Linked DNA regions of Homo sapiens: all the other regions are linked to region 1. The links come from fine-mapping of genetic effects on gene expression. A gene starts in region 1. Each other region holds a variant in brackets. All regions are shown on one strand. Distances are from middle to middle. Region 1 holds the start of LPCAT2 (lysophosphatidylcholine acyltransferase 2). Region 2 overlaps LPCAT2 (lysophosphatidylcholine acyltransferase 2). Region 3 overlaps LPCAT2 (lysophosphatidylcholine acyltransferase 2). Region 4 overlaps LPCAT2 (lysophosphatidylcholine acyltransferase 2).

Region 1 (2,500 bases):
TTATTAATGTTCCCTGTTACACTGAGAGAAAAGTCAGTGGCTCCACAACATAATAATGCTTAAAACATGCCATTTCTTCAGTGTTTCTCTATGAACACTACACATGCATTATTTTATTTAATCCTTGCTACAATTCTATGGAGTTAGAATGAATCTCCCATTCCTAGACAAGGAAGCAAACTCAGGTTAAGTGACTGACTCAAGGCCACACATCTATGTGGTAGGGCTGGAAGATTCTGACATTCAGAGGGTAACTTTGGAGAACCCCAGGGCTCAGACTCAGATTTTCATCCTGGCCTTCCTACCTGCTGTGAGAAGAGTTGATCAGTTGGGATGAGTTGATTATCATCTCCTTCCTTTAACTCTCAGCCACTCAGGGTTGATCAACTGTCCTCAGATAATGGGACAAACCCCTGCCCTCCCACCCCCACGAGCACCCACATAGGTCCAAACAGGCTTGAACTTCCTCAGTGTGAAAGGGAGCCACAGCCCAATACATTTCCCTTTTCTGGGTCAGGTTCCTCATCTAGCGTGGAGGGCAACTGTAATTTTTGCCTTTTCTGGTAATAGTAGCTCAGTTTTCCTCTGGAGAACCATCTCTCCCCTGTCAGTCCATTATGTTTTGAGTGAAACAAATTCCACTCCTAGTGCCATCATGGGTGTATTAATATTAGCTCACTTAATGGAACAGCCCAGGGGAAGTGGTTGCTCAATGGCATTACTGGATCCAGGTTAGGATTATCTGAGAATACATTTATCTGCATTTTACGGAAGGCAACCGAGGTTCATAGAGATAGTGATTTGGCCAGCGTCACAGGCCCAGTAAAAGGGATTGAAAATCCAGGTCCGTCCGACCCTAAAGCAGGGAACTCTGCCTAGTGTCTCGCTGTGGAATGTTAGGGATCCTGGGGTACCCTTCAGGGTCTTGGCTCGGAAGGAAAACATTCCCCTCCGAGGGGATGGACTATATTACCAAGGGGGTGGAGCCAGATGCCTGAGGGGGTGTGGCCAGAGCCTGGGGCGTGTCACAGCCGAAGGGGCAGGGCGGCAGCAGCAGGCGTCTAAGTAACTTCAGCGCCTGCGCAGAGGCTCCCCAGCGTCGCCCTAGGCTGGGACTCTAGTAGGTCTTCGGCTCAGTTTTGGCTGCAGCGCCCGCGTAGATCGCTTCGGCCGGGTTCTACGCCCGGCTCAACTATGAGCCGGTGCGCCCAGGCGGCGGAAGTGGCGGCCACAGTGCCAGGTGCCGGCGTCGGGAACGTGGGGCTGCGGCCGCCCATGGTGCCCCGTCAGGCGTCCTTCTTCCCGCCGCCGGTGCCGAACCCCTTCGTGCAGCAGACGCAGATCGGCTCCGCGAGGCGGGTCCAGGTGAGGGGCGTGGGTCTGAGGGGAGAGGTGGTCTGAGGGGGGCCTAGGTCAGAGGGGGGTCCAGGTAAGGGGTGTGGGTCTGAGAGAGGAGGGCGGCCGAGGGGGGCGTGGGTCTGAGGGAGTGAGGTGGTCCGAGGCGGGCGAGAGTCTGAGGAGGGAGGTGGCCTGAAGGGGGCATGGGTCTGAGGAGGGAGGTGGCCCGAGGGGAGCCAGGGTCTGGGGCGGGTCCAGGTGACTGGTGTAGGTCTGACGGGGGAGGGCGGTCGAGGGGCGCGTGGGTCTGAGGGGCGTTGTGGGTCTGGGAAGCAAAGGCATCAGAGGAAGAAAGAGCAGTGGATCTGAGAGGAGAGGACTTCTGAGGGGCCGTGAGCCTGAAAGGGGCGGAGATGTGTGTCTGAGAATTGAGGACATTTAGAGGATGGTCTGAGCGGGCACGGGAGGAGAGAAGATGCTGGGAAGATGCGGGCCTGAGAGGAGAATCCAAAACAGGAAGAGACTGAGCTGGCTGGTGGCGCAGGCTACATTCCATGCCCCAGAAGGTTGAAGGAATCTGTGAATCTGTGACAGAAGCTTCAACTTGAGTTTATGAGAGTGTAGTGGGAGGCAGATCTACTACGGGAGAGTAGATTTGAAGAAGTCTTTTTTTTTTTTTTTTTGCCTTAGGAAGGAGAGGAGTCAGTATGGGATGGATAAGAGTGAGGCAGAAGGCAGAGAGCCTAGGTCTGTGGTTAGAACAACAGGTAAGGCTGGAAAGATTTAGCTGAGCAGGAGCATGATGGAGGGTGGGAAGTCAGAATCAAAGAAAAGGGACAACTGAGTCAGCTTAGGATGTTCAAGAAGTTTTGGTCCAGAATCAGTCTTCACCTAAAAACGTTTCCTAAGTTGAAGCATGAGAAGTAGTAGCCCAGGCTGTTTTCCATTGTTAAAAATGGCTATACTGTTATGCACAAAGGAAGTTTCCTTTCCTTTCCTTTTTCTTGTAAAGGGTTCCTTTTACCATTGGCAGTTGCACTCTTTGGACTTCCTCTTTGTTGAAGTTAGTGATCAGAGAACAAGATAGACCCTGCTAACCACATTTGTCCGTGTGTTCTGCGGGGGTTGGGGGGGTGGGGGAACAATTTTGAAGTTTTCATGT
Region 2 (2,500 bases), 35 kb after region 1:
TTATTCTAGGAGAGGTGACTTTTTATTAGAATTTCCATTGAATTGCTTCTTAGGAGGAATGGGGCCTCCAAGGCCCATGGGTGTCAAATTTAGGATTTTAATTATTTTGTACTCTCAGTGGAACTTTATTCCTTAAGAATAAGATGTCACGCCAATATGAGAGTTATTAAAAATCATTTTATGAAAAATACTACCTGCACTAATATAAAACCAAACCTGTATTTCATTGTATTATGTTTGGTTAACAGTGTAGCAGCAATTTATTTTTCAAGGTTTTCAGTATGACCTTTTATGACCTAAATCAAGTGTATTACAAATGGTTGTTTGACTTTTTTAAAAAATGAAGAATTATATGGCAATTAAAAACTTTAATTTCTTACACTGTTTTGTTAGAGATTTTATGAACATTAATTTCAACTTACTGTTTTTTTCTTGGATTTTATACTAAGCAAATACAAGAAATTTTACTAGATCAGGATGCAGGGAATTTTTAGAAATATTTCTTTGCCAAGATAGTTATTCTAGATATATAAGGATGTGGGGACCTCTGGTGGCTTAGTTTATTTTTCTATCTTAAAAAACAACTATGCAAAATAGAGAGCCACACACAGAATTCCAATGGGAAGGACTTCAGAGATCGTTTAGTTAAATTTTTTCATTTGACAGGAGAGGGCACTGAGGCTCATAAAGGCTAAATGACTTTTCCAGGATCACACGGCAGATCTCAAGCAGCAACCCAGTCCAAGAACACTTTCTGCAGCTTGCAGCTGCCCCCTTAGAGAGGAAATAATCAGATAAATGTGAAAAGTAAATATCCTGTAGCACATTATTCTATAATTCCATACATTTTATCTTAAAAAGGCAACTTGCATCCATGCCATCCTCCACATCCTCACTCCCTCTACTCAAGGTCTTATTATCTCTCCCATGATTGCAGCTGCTTCCAGACATTCTCCCTGCTCTTAGTCTCTTCTTTGGTGCATACACTCCTTACCGCTGAAGTTACCACTTAAAAACTTGGACCTGGTCATGTCATTCCCTTGCTTAAATGTCACCTCTGAGATACCAATGCTTACAGTTTTCTTAATATGATTGACAAGACTTGAAAACAGGTCCATTTGGAAAAAAATGGTATTTTTAACTACTTCTAGTTGCATTCTTTATTTATCAAATGGAAGTGGTAAGATTTACCTCAAGGAATTGTTTAGAGAGTTAATCATATAAAGCCCCTAATATAAAATACCCAGCACACAGTAGATGTTTAATGGATGGTAACTCTTATTGGTGGATTTAGCTCACTGTTTCATAAATTTCTACCCTACTGAATGGAGAGCTTCTTGAGGGCAGGGACTTTGCTGTCATGTTTGTAGGGCTTAGTGCAGTGCCTGAGCACCTACTATGGGGGAAAAATTAATGAAATAAAATAAC[G/A]TATGTAAAACACCTAGCATGATGCCTGGTTTGTAGTTATAATTCAATAAACAGTAACTATTGGCAAAATCTCACTTATTCTTAAAAAGCCAACATCAAGTATTAGTTCTTCTATAGAGCACCCTTAACAGAATTAGCTTTCCTGTGTGCACTCTCTCCCTAGGCACCACCTTCCTCTTTGGCTGCATTTCCCTGGCCCCTGACAAAATTAATCCTTTCCTACCTCTTGCTCTCATACTCCAGGAAGGATGGTTAGTGGAGAAAATAAGGGTTTTTTTTGAATCTGACAAATCTTGGGCTGAATTCTGGCCATGTGACTTGCATGCCTTTAGGTAAGTTAATTAAGCTATTGAGCCCCATCTATAATTGGGGGTAATAAGGGTAATGACACTTAGCATATGGGGTTATTAATGTGTTGTTCTATACTATTAAAATATTGATCTTCTTTAGAGCAGGAAATAGGGTCCTATTAATCTTGCCTGGTATATAGTAGGTGCTGAAAAATACGTAATAACTTGAATATGGCACTAAAACCTTGTTAATGTCAGGAAACCATAAATAAAAACAAGAACAATACAATTGAGGCATCACAGAACATCAAGTGGAGAAAAAGTAGAATTAAAAATGCTAAAGCAAAAAATGGTGTTAAGCAAAAAAGCTGTAAAGCCAATACTAAGAGTTTTTTTAAAAAGCAGAATAAATGACAAAACATAAAGTTCAAACAAATAGTAAAAATATGGTTGACATTAGAATGGATAGAGAAGATGAAAGGCAAAGAGAAAAGAAAAAAAAGTTTTCACATAAAGGGATGGGAGTTTCACATAAAGGGATGAGAGTGGTAGAAAATGCAGCTCGAGGAGAAAGATCTTAGTAGCTACAGCTTTACACTTCCAGAATTCCAGACACTGACTTGTTTCACCCTCACAATCACCAGGGAAGTAGTGATCTTAGCCCTCTTTTTAGAGTTGAAATGGTTCATCAAAGTTAAATGACATACTAGTTAACACACAAGCAGACCCAGGGCTTAGAAACAGATCTCCTGAGTACAAGCCCAGTGCCCCATTACCTCATA
Region 3 (2,500 bases), 42 kb after region 1:
ACCCTTACTGCAGTTCATTCTGTTCTCAGCCCTAACTGGAATTTGCAGAATTTATTAATTAACATCCTGTCTATGAAGGAGCTGAAGAACCAGTTACTATATCAAAGTTCAGTATTAAAGTATAATATTTTGATAACTGATATAGAAAATATTATTTATATTGTAAGATAATAAAAATGTTTTGCTTTTGTTTGCATATTATAGTTACAATGTTCTGTAGATTTAAAAAGTTTAGTTAGTCACTGAAATTGGGCTAAGAATATATGTTAGGTCATTAGTTTAATTCAACAAAGCAAAGATAGGCTATGATGTAAGCTACAGTACATTTTCCAGTGTTTTATCACCGTAGTTTTTCATAACTAATCTTGGAGGACATGTGTATAGTCTAATGAATCCCCCTATCATAACATTTTGTGAAATATGAATTCATTATCAGCCTGAAAGCTTCTTGAAAGCAAGAATTGTTATTTCATCTTTAAAAACTTAATACAGACTATGGACTCACTAAGTAATGTTTAGATTTAAAATATTTGCTTTCTTATTTTCTTCTCATGAATAATTTATTATTCCACTACAATGTTCTTCTTTTCATATACTTTTCTTTCCCTGAGATATTTGAGATAATTGTTAGTTATACAAGTATCCTTTAAAAGATTAAATGCGGGCCGGGCGTGGTGGCTCACACCTATAATCCCAACACCTTGGGAGGCCGAGGCAGGCGGATCACGAGGTCAATAGATCGAGACCATCCTGGCCAACATGGTGAAACCCCATCTCTCCTAAAAAATACAAAATAAAAGATTAAATGCCTGCATATATGTTGAATATGTGCTTTTAAGTACCTATTTTATTCTCCTTTACAAATTTAACACTTAAAATATTTTTCTCCCAGATACATTAATAAAATAATGATCATAAAATGTGCATGTGAATTGTAAAGGGCTAATAACATGTATCTATAATTCTTTGTTTGTTTAGATTAGATTGGGATGGTGTTCGTAAGCATTTGGATGAATATGCATCTATTGCGAGTTCCTCAAAAGGAGGAAGAATTGGAATTGAAGAATTCGCCAAGTATTTAAAGTTGCCTGTTTCAGATGTCTTGAGACAACTTTTTGCACTCTTTGACAGGGTATGTTAAAATTTAATCTTTCACATTTTTACTCTGTCAGTCCTACAGTGAGTAAATCAATATGGTAGGCAATTTGAAAAACTTGATAGGTCAGTGTTAGAAGAATCAAGGCTGAGCCTATGGTTTAATTGCATGATTTTGTTTTTTTCTCCTTAATAGTAATATTAATAATTGTGTGTGTGTATTGTAACATTTATTATACTGTCATATATAATAAAATATCATATCATATCATATCATATATATATCTATTATTTTAGTGTAATATGATATAATGTATGTATCTATTATTTTAAATACCAGGTCAGAAATAAATATTGTGACCATATAACCACATTTGTGGTATGGAACTGGAAGAGTTTATATCATTGGCAGGAATTTTAA[A/C]ATTTATATCAAAACTCATACATTGATGACATGGGTGTTTAGAATTTTATTCTGAAGGTTTTAGACTTCCACAAACCTGTATGAAGACCAAATAGATTTTTATTTTCAAGTGACATTTTGTAACAAAGATTTTAATTAAAATCTGGCCATTTGCCATTATATTAGGGATACAGTTTGCTGCTTATGAATATTTAAGGACATGCAATTAGATAATTGAACTGTCAAAAAGTTTCCCTAGGAAAACTGTTCACAACTTCAGGTTTTCTATTTTTTAATTTGTGTTTTAATATATAAAATTGATAGTATACAGAAATTAGCCAGGCATAGTGGTGCACACCTGTAATCCCAGCTACTCAGGAGGCTGAGGTGGGAAGATCACTTGAGCCCAGGAGGCGAGGTTGCAATGAGCCAAGATCATGCCACTGCATTCCAGCCTGAGCAACAGAGCAAGACCCTATTCTCAAAAAAAAATTGATAGTAAAATGCACTCTTTTGGTTACAGTTCTATGAATTCTAACAAATGCACAGAAGCATGTAACTACCACTGCATTCAAGATACACAACAGTTGAAAAAATATATATATTTTCTTGCAGCTATTCCATTTGTAGTCAAGCCCTTCCCCCAGTTTTAAGTCCTGGCAGCCAGTGATCTGTTCTCCATCAATATAGTTTATCTTTTTCCAGATGTCATATAAATGGAATCATACAGTATATAGTTTTTTGAGTATGGCTTCTTTCACCAAGTATAATGCATTTGAGATCCAGGCATGGTGTTTTATAGATCAATAATTAATTCCCTTTCATTGCTGAGTAGTATTCAATTGTATAGATGTACCATAGTTACTTTATCTATTCCCTAGTTGAGGAATATTTGGTTTGTGTACAGTTGGGGGCAAATGTGACTATAGCTGTCATTCTAAGAATTTGTATATAGGTTATTATATAAATGTAGGTTTTCATTTCATTTTACTTGGGTAAATACTT
Region 4 (2,768 bases), 75 kb after region 1:
GACCTCCAGACGTGCCATGTGTTTTCATTACCAAAAGAAGTCCAGACAACCCCCTCCACCGCCAGTAATAAAGTCAGCCCTGAAAAGCATGAAGAGAGTACCTCAGACAAAAAAGATGACTGAAAGCAGTATTTCCAATAAGGAAAACACAGTAGCTTTTGCTTGAAATTGTAAAGGCACTTATTGATAATACTTTTAATGTGTTGGTAATGATGTTTAAAATTGAAAGATTTTTAAAACAAAAATGATAGATTTTCTTACTAAAAATGTTTTTATTAACCTTGCTTTTATTGGAAAAAATCAAGCAATATTTCGTTTTCTTTTGTGTTATATTGTACTTTACTGATTCATTTACTGGTGATACATATGTTTTTATGGATTTTCCAGTTTAATTTGCATATACAAATGAATGCAATGGTCTATTGGTGAGCATTGAGCAACACTGTATAAAGTTTTAAAAATGTAAACACTTTTTAATCTACTTTCCTCTAAAAATCAATAATATTCTATTATTTCTAATCCTTTTCCACTTGGGAAATAACAATGAAGAATCTGAGAATTTGACATCTATAACTTTACAGATTCATTTTTCCATTTAAATTTCAGTTTCTTGGATCACTGAATATGGGAAGGGAGAGCTTCACTAATTAGACGCAGCTTCTTAAGAACTTATATTCTCTTTGACATACATCTCTATTGTAGTTTTTTGTTTTGTTTTGTTTTTTGAGATGGAGTCTTGCTCTGTCACCCAGGCTGGAGTGCAGTGGTGCAATCTCAGCTCACTGCAACCTCTGCCTCCTGGGTTCAAGTGATTCTCGTACCTCAGACTCCCGAGTAGTTGGGATTACAGGTGCCCACCACCACACCCGACTAATTTTTGTATTTTTAGTAGCCATGTGGTTTTGCCATGTTGGCCAGGCTGGTTTCGAACTCCTGACCTCAGGTGATCCACCCACCTCAGCCTCCCAAAGTGCTGGGATTACAGGTGTGAGCCACCGTTCCCGGCCTATTGTAGATTTTCTTAACTACTTGCTAAGGAAATCATATCCTTTTACATGAACTACAGGTTTAGAACTTGGTTTTAAGACAACTGCTATGGCCAGAAGGTAAATGGGAATTGCCTTATTGAAGGTAACATTGATTGCCTAATAAGAAAATGAATTGTTTGCCACAGAGTTGAATTTAATTTGAGTTAGATAGTTCAGAATGTAGCACTTGCCCTATAAATGAATCAGATTTGTTCTATTTATATAATATTAGAATTAATATATTATCATGTAAGTGGGAATTTTATTTTGTTAAGTGGACTCTCAAATTTTAGAACTTGTGTGAAATATCTCCCAGAAAACACAAAAGGTTTCAAGGTATCACCCAAAGCTAGGGAATCAACAAACGTACTTTATTAATGCAAGACCACAATTTAAGCCCCAGGCAGGAATCCAACAGTAACATTTTTCCTTTAGGTTAAGCAGTAATTTTTTTGAATTGTCATTTTTAATGGGTCTCACACATGCATATTGCTAATATCATTCATGTTTGAGGTTTTCAACAAAGAACCAATTT[A/G]TTAATATAATGTACAAAAATAGTTGGTTCATTTTCTGAATTCAGTCTTTGAAATAAAACTCCTTGTTTTGGCCGTGTTTCTGAATGTATTGGTGATTCACCCCCAAGCTAATTTTTTAAAGTCATTTTTGAAGTTGGGAAGTCTCATGAGAGATGTTGAAGTATGTATTTAATCAAGAGTCATGATTTCAAACTAGTTTTACATATTAAGCAGTTAGTGTTCTAATTTAATGGGTAAATGTGTGTTTGGATAAATATCTGAAAATTTTATCCTTAAGTATATATAATTATTTGCCTCTTATATGTCTTAAAGCTATTTAAACAAGGTGTTAAATGAGCCAAAACAATTAAGTAATTAGAACAGTACATTTTTATCAGAGTGTCTGTCATATGCAATGAATGTATGTAATACTAAAAAATCATGACTACTTTTATCAAAGAAAAACCACACATTAATCCTATTAATCATGAAAGCGTAGCATTGTAAATTAAAGGTTTTCTTTGAGGCTCTTGAAAGTGATCCCATTGCTTTCCTGTTTTAAAAATATTTTATGCTCTTTATTTCCACTTCTGTGAATGTGATATTTCTATTTTGTGATTATGTTACTGAATAAACAAACTTGCTACATAAAATTCTTAGCAATTAAAAAAATTCTGATTCTGCCATTTTGTCTCAAATGTAATATACCCTTTTAATATCATATGTTTACATATTTATGAATGATTAATCATTTTTGTTTGCATTAAACTTTATGAAATGTCAGAAATGATTTTACTCTAATGAAACTCAAATTTTGCCCAAAGTAGCAATATTCTTAAAGATGTTGAATTTTGACTGGTTGAATTTTATATAGTAACACACAAGTCGTGATCATCAATATTATTGCAGACCAGGACTCTGCTTATATGCCTTGCTAACAAAGATTTCTTTCACAGAGGCTTTTCTCCTCTCAAGACTTAAAGTAAGAATTACATTTTATTAAGTCAGTTAAATGCACCATGGCTTCATATAGTAATATAAAAAAACTCTTTGAAGTGAGAAATATTATATCCTAAAACCTCTAAACCACAAACATTCAATTGAAAGAGTTCTGTTGAAGGATAATGACATACTGACTGCTTACAGACCAAGTTGCTTGCATTTTGTATGTTTAGCCCTCCTTTGCCACTGCTTTTAGAGCCTTGGAAGGCTAAGTGTGATAGTA

What was found. PIP is the estimated chance that this variant, and not a neighbour inherited with it, causes the effect.
Region 2: its variant is the best candidate, but not a certain one, in a credible set for the expression of LPCAT2 in whole blood (TOPMed, PIP 0.53).
Region 3: its variant is the best candidate, but not a certain one, in a credible set for the expression of LPCAT2 in whole blood (TOPMed, PIP 0.72).
Region 4: its variant is the best candidate, but not a certain one, in a credible set for the expression of LPCAT2 in monocytes after triphosphate RNA (Kim-Hellmuth 2017, PIP 0.90).

Annotation. Positions count from the first base shown.
Region 1 is chr16:55,507,988-55,510,487 of GRCh38, forward strand. It overlaps LPCAT2 (lysophosphatidylcholine acyltransferase 2), which reads left to right and starts at 1,085. Exons shown (of 14, transcript NM_017839.5): 1 at 1,085-1,365. The coding sequence starts at 1,195.
Region 2 is chr16:55,543,116-55,545,615 of GRCh38, forward strand. The region is part of intron 8 of LPCAT2 (lysophosphatidylcholine acyltransferase 2); the gene reads left to right. Among named protein-coding and RNA genes, the nearest start is that of CAPNS2, 22 kb to the right of the region's middle. The variant G/A (reference allele first, on the strand shown) is at 1,429.
Region 3 is chr16:55,549,971-55,552,470 of GRCh38, forward strand. It overlaps LPCAT2 (lysophosphatidylcholine acyltransferase 2), which reads left to right. Exons shown (of 14, transcript NM_017839.5): 11 at 979-1,132. Among named protein-coding and RNA genes, the nearest start is that of CAPNS2, 15 kb to the right of the region's middle. The variant A/C (reference allele first, on the strand shown) is at 1,517.
Region 4 is chr16:55,582,976-55,585,743 of GRCh38, forward strand. LPCAT2 (lysophosphatidylcholine acyltransferase 2) reads left to right here. Exons shown (of 14, transcript NM_017839.5): 14 at 1-2,768. The coding sequence ends at 123. Among named protein-coding and RNA genes, the nearest start is that of CAPNS2, 18 kb to the left of the region's middle. The variant A/G (reference allele first, on the strand shown) is at 1,564.